Regions from separate parts of the Homo sapiens genome. Here region 1 is linked to region 2. The links come from fine-mapping of genetic effects on gene expression. Tissue or cell type: ovary. Region 2 holds a variant in brackets; the other region holds the start of a gene. All regions are shown on one strand. Distances are between the middles of the regions. Region 1 holds the start of PLPP2 (phospholipid phosphatase 2). Region 2 overlaps MIER2 (MIER family member 2).

Region 1 (5,306 bases), 24 kb after region 2:
TGACCCAGTGAAGACCTCCTCACAGACAGAGCACAGCAGACTCGCGGTGCTGAAACCCGGAGGGTTACCCTGTCCCTGACTGACTGTAAGGTTACACTAAATTAAGAGGCACTCCAAGGATTGCAAAGTCCGAGGGGAATTTTGAATTCGTGGGTCCTGGATTGTGAATTTGAAGGCAGCGGTTTCCAACCCTTTTAAATCTTGACCCCAGGAAGAAGTACCTTCTACATCTTGACCCAGCAAACACGTGATACCTACCCACACTGTATTTTGTTCAATTAACCCTCAAATGATGTTTCCTAATGTTTGGCCCTGGGTCAAGCATTTCACAAACTATTTAATCTTCTCTACAATCCCAGGTGGTAGCTACTGTCTTGCCGCCTTTATGCAGACAGAGACTGAGGGATACCTTAGATGTCTTTCCAAACCATCCACCCCCTCAGCCTTCCCTGCCCACTGCCTGCACGTCAAACCCACTGACGGGCACTCGTTCGACTCCAAGAGCCCCGTGCCAGGAACCTGGGAGACAACTCCCGTTTTGACTCTGGGCAAGGTACTTCACCTCTCAAGTCCCAGAGAAGCAGAGAAAGCAACGGCAGGTATAGTGGCTGGCTGCACTTAGGTGGCACCTACTGTGTGCCAGGCCCCCTTCTGCCCACTTCACAGGTGTCTTAGTCTCCATAGAGTCCATTTGGAAACAGGCCCGGAGCCATCCAGGTTGCGATGAGGCACCAAGGTGGCAGAGCCAGTGCTGGGCAAGAGGCGGGAGCTGCAGTTGCTGAACCCGTGAGCTTGCTTGCCTGGGAGTGGCGACCTGGCCCTCAGGGGTTGCTTGTCTCTAGGGGACCCAGCCTGGGTACATGTACCACCACCCGCTTCCAGCTCTGCTATTTGCAGGTGAAGGAGAAAGCCACTGAGGCCTGGCCTCCAGGCCAGGCTCTGTCCCTGCTGGGAGCTGCCCTGGCCTCAGGTTCTTCCTGGAAGGGAGGACCAGGCAGCTGGGGGCAGCAGCAGATCCAGCTATGAAAGCCGTGACAAGAAGTTCCTTGAAGTGTGGTGGGCTGCAGTCAGCATATGTAGGAGACGACCCCAATCCTGACCCTAATCCTAATTCTTGCTTTCCCCACCAGATTTTAATCCTTATCCTGCCCAGGGATTTTAAGGGCTAACCCAAATCCTGACCCAAGGGGAAGGATGGAAGGGGGAACAGCCTGCAGCCTCACCTCCACCCTCTATCCTCCCAGGTCTACCTCCACCCCTCTCCTGGGTCTCTCCCTCTTGGCTTGGCCCCATCCCACAGCCCCCACTGTCTTCCCCCCGCTCCCACTTTGGCAGGCCCCTCCAAGTGACCTCTCCCTTGCTCCCCAGCACACAGTAGGTGCTCAATGAAGAACACCGCCTTTCCTTGACTCCAGTAGATGTTGCACCCTCTCCATCTTAGGAGAAAATGTGCGTTGGCTGTCAAGACTACACTGACAGCAGTGGTCACTCATTTGCAGACAGGGTGAAGTGTGGGGGAAAGCGCAGTAGTGACGCTGAACCCTACATTTATGTAGCATTGATGCTAGGCACCAGAACCCTCACAATCCTAATTCCGACGGGAGCTAGAGCCCCCCCACCCCACCGTGAGTGCAGCAAGGGAGCACCTCAACCCTGCCCTTGGAGGGCCACAGGTCAGCTTGCACCGTCTTCCCACCCAGCACCACTCTGGGTGCCTTTGCTGTCTCCCAAGAGCCCCTTGCCCTTGGAGTTCCCTCATGATGCCCCCCTGCCCCACGTGCAGGTGTCTGACCATCCGGGAAGCAGGGTCGAGGAGCTCCCAGTTGAAGTCCAGTTGCTGAGACGCACCCTGTTTTGGTGTTGCTGGGGCAGGGGGCTGATGGTGGTGCTGAACGGGTTTTAGAGGAGGGTCAGGGTGGCAGCGGATCTGGGGCCCAGCAGCCTTGTTTCTGACCCCAGGCCTGCCACTTCCCATTTAAGTGACCGTGAGTGGCAGAGGTCAAGGCTGGACTCCGGAAACGTGGGTCTGACACTCCTGAGGCCTCCCGGATGGTCCCAGCCGAAAGGACCCAGTGTGGGTCCCTTGGGCCTGGGTTTCCCTGGCTCAGGTGCCCTCAATCCCCAGGCACCCTCAGCTCAGGGCTCCCCACGACCTGGTGGGGGCACAGACCCCGGCGCCATTTCATGGGGTTCCCAGCTCCTGGCGCCCCCGTGCTCTTCTGTGAAATGGGACAGCAAGTGCGCTGATAGGAACGGTGCCTGGGCACAGGGCTGCGCCTGGACACCCTACGCCGTCGCAAGGTGGGTGCCGAGGAACTCGAGCTTCTAACGTGCCAGGGGTCCAAGGACGCGCCAGGATTTTGAGTATTAGGAGAAAAGAAACTCCTGAAATGAAGCCACGTCGCCCCTTCCACTTTAAGGTGCCTCCTGCTGTCGGAGTTTCCAGGCGCACACGGCGCGGCTGCCACTCCCTGAGGAGGAAAGTCGGGAACCGTCCCGCGGGGCCGGTCCCGCCGCTGCTCGTCCTCCTTCTCCACGTCCCCGCCCGGGGCTCCGCCGGCCCGACCCGCGGGGAACCTCCAGCCTCTGAGGACCTCACGCCGCTCGGAGACCCGCACAGCCCGGGTCAGGGCCGGGACTCCGGGCGGACGAGGTCCCCGTGGCGCCCGCACGCTCGCCCCACCCGCTCTTTTGGGCGCCGCGGCCAGGCGGGGGCAGAGTCCGCGCGGTCCCGGGTCCGCCGCGCCCCGCCCCCCCCGCTGCTCCCCTGCCCGCCGCTGCCGTCCCCCCTCCCTCCTCCCCTCCCCCCCTTCTTCCCTTCCCTCCCCCTCCCCCCTCCCCTCCCCGCCCCTAGCCCTCCCCTCCTCCCCTCCCCCTCCCTCCTCCCCTCCCCGCCCCTAACCCTCCCTCCTCCCCTCCCCTCCCCTCCTCACCTCTCCCCTCGTGCCCTCCCCGCCCCTCCCCTCCTCCCCTTCCCGCCCCTCCCCTCCTCTCCGCGCGGGGCGGGCTCCGCGCCACGTGACTCCGCGGCCGGGCCGGGACGCGACGGGACGCGCTGGGACCGGCGTCGGGGGTCGCGGGGACCATGCAGCGGAGGTGGGTCTTCGTGCTGCTCGACGTGCTGTGCTTACTGGTCGGTAAGAGCCTTGGGGACCCGGGTGTTGGGGGGACCCTCCCGGGACGGACACGCCCCCGGCTGCGCGCAAGTTTGCAGGGGAACGCGGAGGCTGCGCGCCCTCGTCCCTCCGAGGACCCTGGAGGCGGGGACCTCGCGTGAGGACCAGACCTCCCTCCGCGCCCCGCACTGCGCGCGCCCTCCCAGGCTCGGGGGTCCCCGCGTCCCAGGCCCAGGGGGATGGGGGTCGCGAGAGGCCCGGGGAGCCGGGGCCAGCATCCCCCGCCCCGGCAGCAGGAAGTCTGTGCGGAGGGGCCGCGCGCGCGCCTCCATCCCGCCCCGCCTGGCCTGGGAGGTGAGTCACGCGGGCCCGGGAGGTGGGGGCGGCCGCGGGTTACCCCGGCAGGACGTCCGCGCCTCCGCCCCTGGGGTGGGCGCTCCCGCTGCGCGCGGAGAGGGCTGACCCTCGGTCCTGGCACCCGGTGCGTCGGCGGGATTCGAACCCGTGCACGTGCGGGGAGGCCCAGCCGCCCTGCTGGCTCGGGCGGGGGAGACACTGGGGATGAAGGCTGGGTCCCAGGCTTCGGGTGAACGGGGTGGCGGGGGGCCGGGAGGCCAGGAGAACCAAACCTGTCCGGCGGGTTTGCGGGCCACACTGGCGGAATGGGCATCCCGAGGCCCCCCTCCCGCAGGGTCCCGGGAACAAAGGCCGAGTGTTTGCTCTGTGGCTGCACAGACAATGGCCCTGGAATTCTATCTCTGGGGGGTGCCCTCCTCCCCAACGTGTTTCCTGCTTCTCTGCCATCTCACAGCAGAGGCCAAGTCCTCTTACCTCCGGAAGGAGACCCTTTTTTAGGGTGGGCCAGGTGACAGCAAGAAGTCCCTGTGGGTGTCTGCCAGCCCGTGGTACCATTTCCTGAGCACCTATGGTGTTATTTATGTAAACATTTAGGTGGCACTTTCTGTATGCCAGGAACTAAGCAACATGCAAATAACAAACATTTCCCTTACAACAGCCTGTGAGGGAGGTGCTGAGTCACCTGCCGGAGGTCACACAGCAGCGGGAGGTACAGCCGAGATGGGGTTGGCTGTTGCTGCTGTGTGCCAGGGGTGGTGGCCAGGCCGAGTGCACCTCTATGCTGGAAGCTTGAGCACACCACAGTTCAGTCAACACTGAGGTTCCAGATGCTGGCATGAGGGCAGTGTGAGGGCGGGAGGGCTCCCGGGGGCTAAATGAAGAGAAGGTGTCTGTTTTGGGGACCCCAGGGAGAGCTTTCCAGGCCGAGGGAAGCCCGGCGCCTGTCGTTATGGGGGTGCCTGCGTCTCTAGTTGGAGTTGCTGGGGCAGGGAGGTCGGAAACGGAGGCTAACCTGTGTGAGCCTCCGCCCGATAAGAGCTGTGGTCGGGCTGCACTCCCTTCTGGGCATCTCGTAACCCTGACTTTCCACCCGGCCGGCAACTGCAGGAGCCTCCTCCAAGGCCTCTCCCTTCACAGCAGCTCCAGCCCCTCCTGTGTGGGAGCAGAAGGCAGGTTCTTACATCCCGCCCTCTCCGCCGTCCTGCCCTGCCTCCAGGCCCTGGCGCTGCCCTTTTTTTTTCTTTCTTGAGACAGAGTCTCGCCCTGTCGCCAGGCTGGTGTGCAGTGGTGCAATCTCGGCTCACTGCAACCTCTGCCTCCTGAGTTCAAACGATTCTCCTGCCTCAGCCTCCCGAGGAGCTGGGACACCGCCACACCCAGATAATTTTTGTATTTTTAGTAGAGTTGGGGTTTCACCGTGTTAGCCAGGATGGTCTCGATCTCCTGACCTCGTGATCTGCCCGCCTCGGCCTCCCAAAGTGCTGAGCCACCACGCCGGGCCTGCCCATTCTGTTCTGCATTCCCTCACCTTTCTTGCTCGGTGAGGCAGGCCTCTGTTTTCTTCACCAGATTATTTCCCCAGACTTAGCCAGCATGGAAGGTGTACGGTGTCCTAGGGCCCTTGGAGTTAGCATGTCGGGAGGAGTGTGGGGCTCCCTGCCCCTCCGCTGACATTCAGAACTTAGAAAAGCCACACCCTTTTGTACTTGCCCTGCTGGGCCAAAGGATGCCCTGCCTTGGTTTGTCTCTGGGCTAGCCGACCCGGGCTTTTGTTGTGCGCCTGCCCTCTGCCCCGTTCTCCGTAGATGACTCCTGCTTCCCTGGCCACCCTCA
Region 2 (5,362 bases):
TCGGCCTCCCAAAGTGTTGGGATTACAGGTGTGAGCCACCGCGCCCAGCCTCCTTTTACTGATTTTTAATTGAATTACACTGTGGTCAGAAAACATACTCCGTGATTTCAGTTCTTTGTAATTAGTTGCACCTCGCTTTATGTCCATTATTTGATCTGTTTTGGTAAATGTTGTACGTGTTTGAAGAGAGTGTGCTGTGCTGTTGTTGGGTGGAATTTTCCGTGTATTCCCTTGGATCCGCTGGATAATTGTTGTTCACATCATCTGTATTCTCACTTAATTTTTTTGGCTGCTTGTTCTATTTACTGAAAGATTGTTAATGACCTCCTCTGATTGTGGATTGTCTATTTCCCCTTTTTAATGCTGTCCATTTTTACTTCACATTGTGTTAAGTGCATACACGTTAAGATTGCTTTGTCTTTGTGTTGAATTGTTTCTTTTACCATTGTGACGTGTCTCTCTGTAGTAACACTTCTTACCGTAAATAAGTACTTAATCTGCCATCAGTGTGACCACAGCAGCTTTTTGTTGATTTGTTTAGTGTTTGCATGGTTTTTTCCCATTCTTTTTTCCATTCTAGATTCCTATATTTGAAGTGTATTTTCTGTAAATGGCACATGTTTAGATCTTGTTTTTTGAGACGGAGTCTCTGGAGTGCATTGGCATAATATCCACTCACTGCAGCCTCCGCCTCCCGGGTTCAAGCAATTCTTCCCCCTCTGCCTCCCAAGTAGCTGCAATTACAGGCGTCCGCCACCATGCCCAGCTAAGTTTTGTATTTTTAGTAGAGATGGGGTTTCACCATGTTGGCCAGGCTGGTCTCAATCTCTAGACCTCAAGTGACCTGCCCACTTCGGCCTCCCAATGTGCTGGGATTATAGGTGTGAGCCACTGTGTCCGACCTAGATCTTATTTTTAATTGTCTGAGAAAACCATTGTCTTTTAATAGACTTTTTAGTCCATGTACATTTTTTAAATCACTTGTATGTCATGTAATTATAAAACAATTGTGTAATGCCACCATCTTGCTCTTTGCTTTCTGTGTGTTCCATCTGTTCTTTGTTTTTTGTTTGTTTGTTTTTTTTTTTTTTTTTGAGACAGAGTCTCACTCTCATTGCCCAGGCTGGAGTGCAGTGATGCGATCTTACTTCACGGCAACCTCCACCTCCCGGGTTCAAGTGATTCTCCTACCTTAGCCTCCCAAGTAGCTGGGATTACACGCATCCGCCACCATGCCTGGCTAATTTTGTATTTTTATTTTATTTATTTATTTATTTATTTATTTATTTATTTTTTCTGAGACAGAGTCTCGCTTTGTCACCCAGGTTGGAGTGCAGTGGCGCGATCTCAGCTCACTGCAAGCTCCGCCTCCCGGGTTCACGCCATTCTCCTGCTTCAGCCTCCTGAGTAGCTGGGACTACAGGCACCCGCCATGACTCCCGGCTAATGTTTTGTATTTTTAGTAGAGACGAGGTTTCACCGTGTTAGCCCGGGTGGTCTCGATCTCCTGACCTCGTGATCCGCCCGCCTCAGCCTCCCAAAGTGCTGGGATTACAGGTGCCCGCCACCGCGCCCGGCCTAATTTTGTATTTTTAGTAGAGATGGGTTGTCTCCATGTTGGCCAGGATGGTCTCGATCTCCTGACCTCGTGATCCGCCCACGTCGGCCTCCCAAAGTGCTGGGATTACAGGCGTGAGCCACTGGACCTGGCCTGTTGTTTGTTTTTTAATTTTTTTATATCTTCTTTTGGATTAATAGGTTTATTTTGTCCTTCTGTTTCAGCTTATAAGTTTTAGTTTTAGCGCTTTAGAGGTTACAACATGAATTATTGACTTATCACAGTCTACATTTTTTTTGAGATAGAGTCTTGTTCTGTCGCCCAGGCTGGAGTACAGTGGTGTGATCTCGGCTCATTGCAACCTCCGCCTCCTGGGCTCAAGCGATTCTCCTGCCTCAGCCTCCCAAGTAGGTGGGACTACAGGCACACGCCACCATCCCCAGCTAATTTTTGTATTTTTAGTAGGGATGAGGTGTCACTGTGTTGGCTATGCTGGTCTTGAACTCCTGACCTCCAGTGACCTCAGCCTCCCAAAGTGCTGACATTACAGGAGTGAGCCACCACACCGGGCCTCACAGCTTGAAATAAGTACATTCTAGTTCCCCTACAATGCAAGAAACAGTTTAACTCAATTTACCTGCCCCCTGCCTTTTGTGCTATCGTTAATTTTACATATGAGCCGGCTGTGGTGGCTCATGCCTATAATCCGAGCACTTTGGGAGGCCGAGGCAGGCAGATTGCCTGAGGTCAGGAATTTGAGACCAGCCTGGCCAACATGGTGAAACCCTGTGTCTACTAAAAATACAAAAATTAGCCAGGCGTGGTGGGCACCTGTAGTCCCAGCTACTCGGGAGGCTGAGGCAGGAGAATCGCTTGAACCC[C/T]GGAGATGGAGGTTGCAGTGAGCCAAGATCGCACCACTGCACTCCAGCCTGGGGGACAGAGCAAGACTCCATCTCCAAAAAAAAAAAATCTACATATCACAAGATGATAACATTGTTGTTTTAAACAGTGAACATTCTTTGTATTTATCCTATCCACATATTTCCTCCAGCTTCCATTTGGAATCATTTCCTTCAGCCGGAAGAACTTCCTTTGTAATAGGCCTTGTGCTTTCTTTCAGCATTTTTTTGTCTGAAAAGCCTGGATTTTTGCTTTCATTCTTTAAAGCATATTTTCATGGCATGTTTTTCCAGGTTTGCAGGGTGTTTTCTTTCAACACTTGAAAAATTTCACTCCATTGCGTTTTGGCTGTCATCGTTTCTGTTGAGAAGTCAGAGGACGGTCTTACTCTTTCTTCTGAAGTCATTGTGCCCTTTTCTCTCCTAAGAGTTGTTTCCTTTCCTTTATTTGTTTGTTTTTCACCAGTTTGGCTCTCCTGTGCCTGTGCACACGTCTTCGTGTGTCCTTGTATTCGTCCTGAGTTTCCTGGCTCTGTGGGTTGGTATCAGTCGTCAGTTTTGAAGAATTCTTGGCTGTTACCTCTTCAGATTTTGTGCTGCCTCCTTCTTTGCTTTCTCTGTCACTCATTTACACGTATCTTAGAGGTTGCCTCACTGTCTTGTACTACCCTAAACGGTGTTCTTTCCTTTTACACTTTGGTTTTGGTCTTGTAAACATTGGTTTCCTTTTGATTCCACTAATTGTGTTTTGTGCTGTGTTCAGGCTGCTGGTAAAAAAGCTGTTCAGTGGGTCCATTCGGGTATTGTATTATCCAGTCCTGGAAGGTCCTTGAGATTCTTTTCTATAAATTTCAAGTCTCTGCTGAGACTCTCCGGCGTTTTGTCCATTTCCTTAACGTATTAATCCTCGTTAGATTGAAGTCTTCGTGTGCTGACTCTTAACATCGGCTGTGTGTAGACCTGCTTTGTTGTCTGATGTGTTCTTGTTTTGTTTGTTTGTTTGAGACGGAGTCTCGCTCTTCTCGCCCAGGCTGGAGTGCAGTGGCGCGATCTTGGCTCACTGCAACCTCTGCCTCCCGGGTTCAAGTGATTCTCCTCCCTCAGCCTCCCGAGTAGCGGAGATTACAGGCGCCCATGACCACGCCCGGCTAATTTTTGTATTTTTAGTAGAGCTGGGGTTTCGCCATGTTTGCCAGGCTGGTCTCGAACTCCTGACCTCAGGTGACCCGCCCGCCTCAGCCTCCCAAAGTGCTGGGATGACAGGCGTGAGCCACCACGCCTGGCCTTGTTTTCTTGTTTTATTCTGAGACAGGGTCTTGCTCTGTTTCCCAGGCTGGAGTGCAGTGGTGCAATCATGGCTCATTGCAACCTCGACCTCCTGGGCTCAGTCCCACCTTAGCCTCAATCCCACCGTAGCTGGGACTACAGACGTGCCTGTACTACATTTGAAATTTTTTGTAGAGATGGAGTGTGCGAGTCTCAAACTCTGGCCTCAACCGATCCTCCCACCTCAGCCTCCCAGAGTGCTGGGATTACAGACATGAGCCCTCACATCCGGTTAATGTTTTTCCCTCGTGTTTTCCCACCCTTCACATGCTAGGCTGTATGTGGTGTTCTTTTTCTCCAGAGATGGTCTGCTGTTTTCTTGGAGACCACCTCTGTCCAAGCAGGGCTCAGGTGTCGCCTGTGGAGATGGAGAAAGGTGGCTGTGGTGTCTGCCTGTTTTCCTCATGGCCATGAGGACCGGGAGAGGCCCCTGCTTGGTGGGGCACAGCACCAACCTGGGAGCTAGTTACCGCGTCAGCCCCCGGCAGTGGAGACTCCCGTGTGGAGCTGTTTTCCCCAGTGCGTTTTTCACATTTCTTCCCGTGCACTGATTTTGTTTTTTATTTGTTGGTTTGCTTTGTTTGGGATCCTGTGCCTCTTTCCTGGATAATTGAGAGGTGCTGGCACTTGAGCCTTGCCAGACCTGGCCCTGAGCTCTCCCCTGCCTTGTCCCCAGTCACGTCCCTCACCACAGCTGGAGGCTGCGTCCCTCCCTTTGCCGAAAGCCAATTGCATCTGAGGTCGTGGACTTTTCCTCCCCTCTGTGAGCACATCTGCCATCCACACCAGCTACCGGGGGCAGGATGTCTCCCCAGAGGTGATGCACCTTCTGGCCGTGGCTCTTCAGCTCCCAGGGTTAGAGCGCGACAGTGCCTAACTGTGGGGGCTCCCGCTTGTCCACGGGCCCAAGTCTCAGCTGCCTTTATGCAGAGTCGGGGGCGTCCTTGCTGCTCCCTCAGGCCTCTGCATTTCAGGTGCCCTTGTAGCTGTGCAGCCTGAAGCCAGCCTCACCTCACTGGTCTCACTACTTAGAACCCCCTCTGCAGAGTCCTTGCTTAGAATTCCCCTGCCCCAGATCTAGGCTGTCCACAGCTTCCTCTGACCCCTTGGCTGGATCAGGCGCCCCTGCTGACTGCTCATGGCTCCCTGCACTTGGTCGTTGGGATACAGGCCTGTGTGTGGTGCCCAGAGCCTGCTCTGGACCCACTCGGTAGTTGAATTGAGCACAGCAGCACCAAGCCCAGGAGGAGCACAGGGATGGCGGCCCAGGGCTTGGGAAAGGGAGGACGGACAGTGCCTCCTCCCTGTCAGGGGCTGAGTTGGCTGCTTTGCTTGTCCTGGCGTGTGTGGGTGCAGATTGGGTTCCTGCAAGCTGACCTTTGCCCTCTGCTTGTGCAGTCTACGAGAACGAAGACCAGCTGCTCTGGGACCCCAGCGTCCTCCCTGAGAGGGAGGTGGAGGAGTTCCTGTACAGGGCGGTGAAGCGGCGTTGGCACGAGATGGCCGGGCCTCAGCTCCCAGAGGGAGAAGCCGTGAAAGACAGTGAGCAGGTGGGGGCTGCCATGCCGGGGACAGAGGG

What was found.
Region 1: PLPP2 starts here. The variant in region 2 is fine-mapped to the expression of PLPP2 in ovary (GTEx, PIP above 0.99).

What each region holds. Positions count from the first base shown.
Region 1 is chr19:289,116-294,421 of GRCh38, reverse strand. It overlaps PLPP2 (phospholipid phosphatase 2), which reads left to right and starts at 3,019. Exons shown (of 6, transcript NM_003712.4): 1 at 3,019-3,137. The coding sequence starts at 3,086. RefSeq lists enhancers at 1-425, 3,125-3,822, 3,853-4,366, 3,823-4,521.
Region 2 is chr19:313,463-318,824 of GRCh38, reverse strand. It overlaps MIER2 (MIER family member 2), which reads left to right. Exons shown (of 14, transcript NM_017550.3): 8 at 5,182-5,333. Among named protein-coding and RNA genes, the nearest start is that of PLPP2, 25 kb to the right of the region's middle. The variant C/T (reference allele first, on the strand shown) is at 2,440.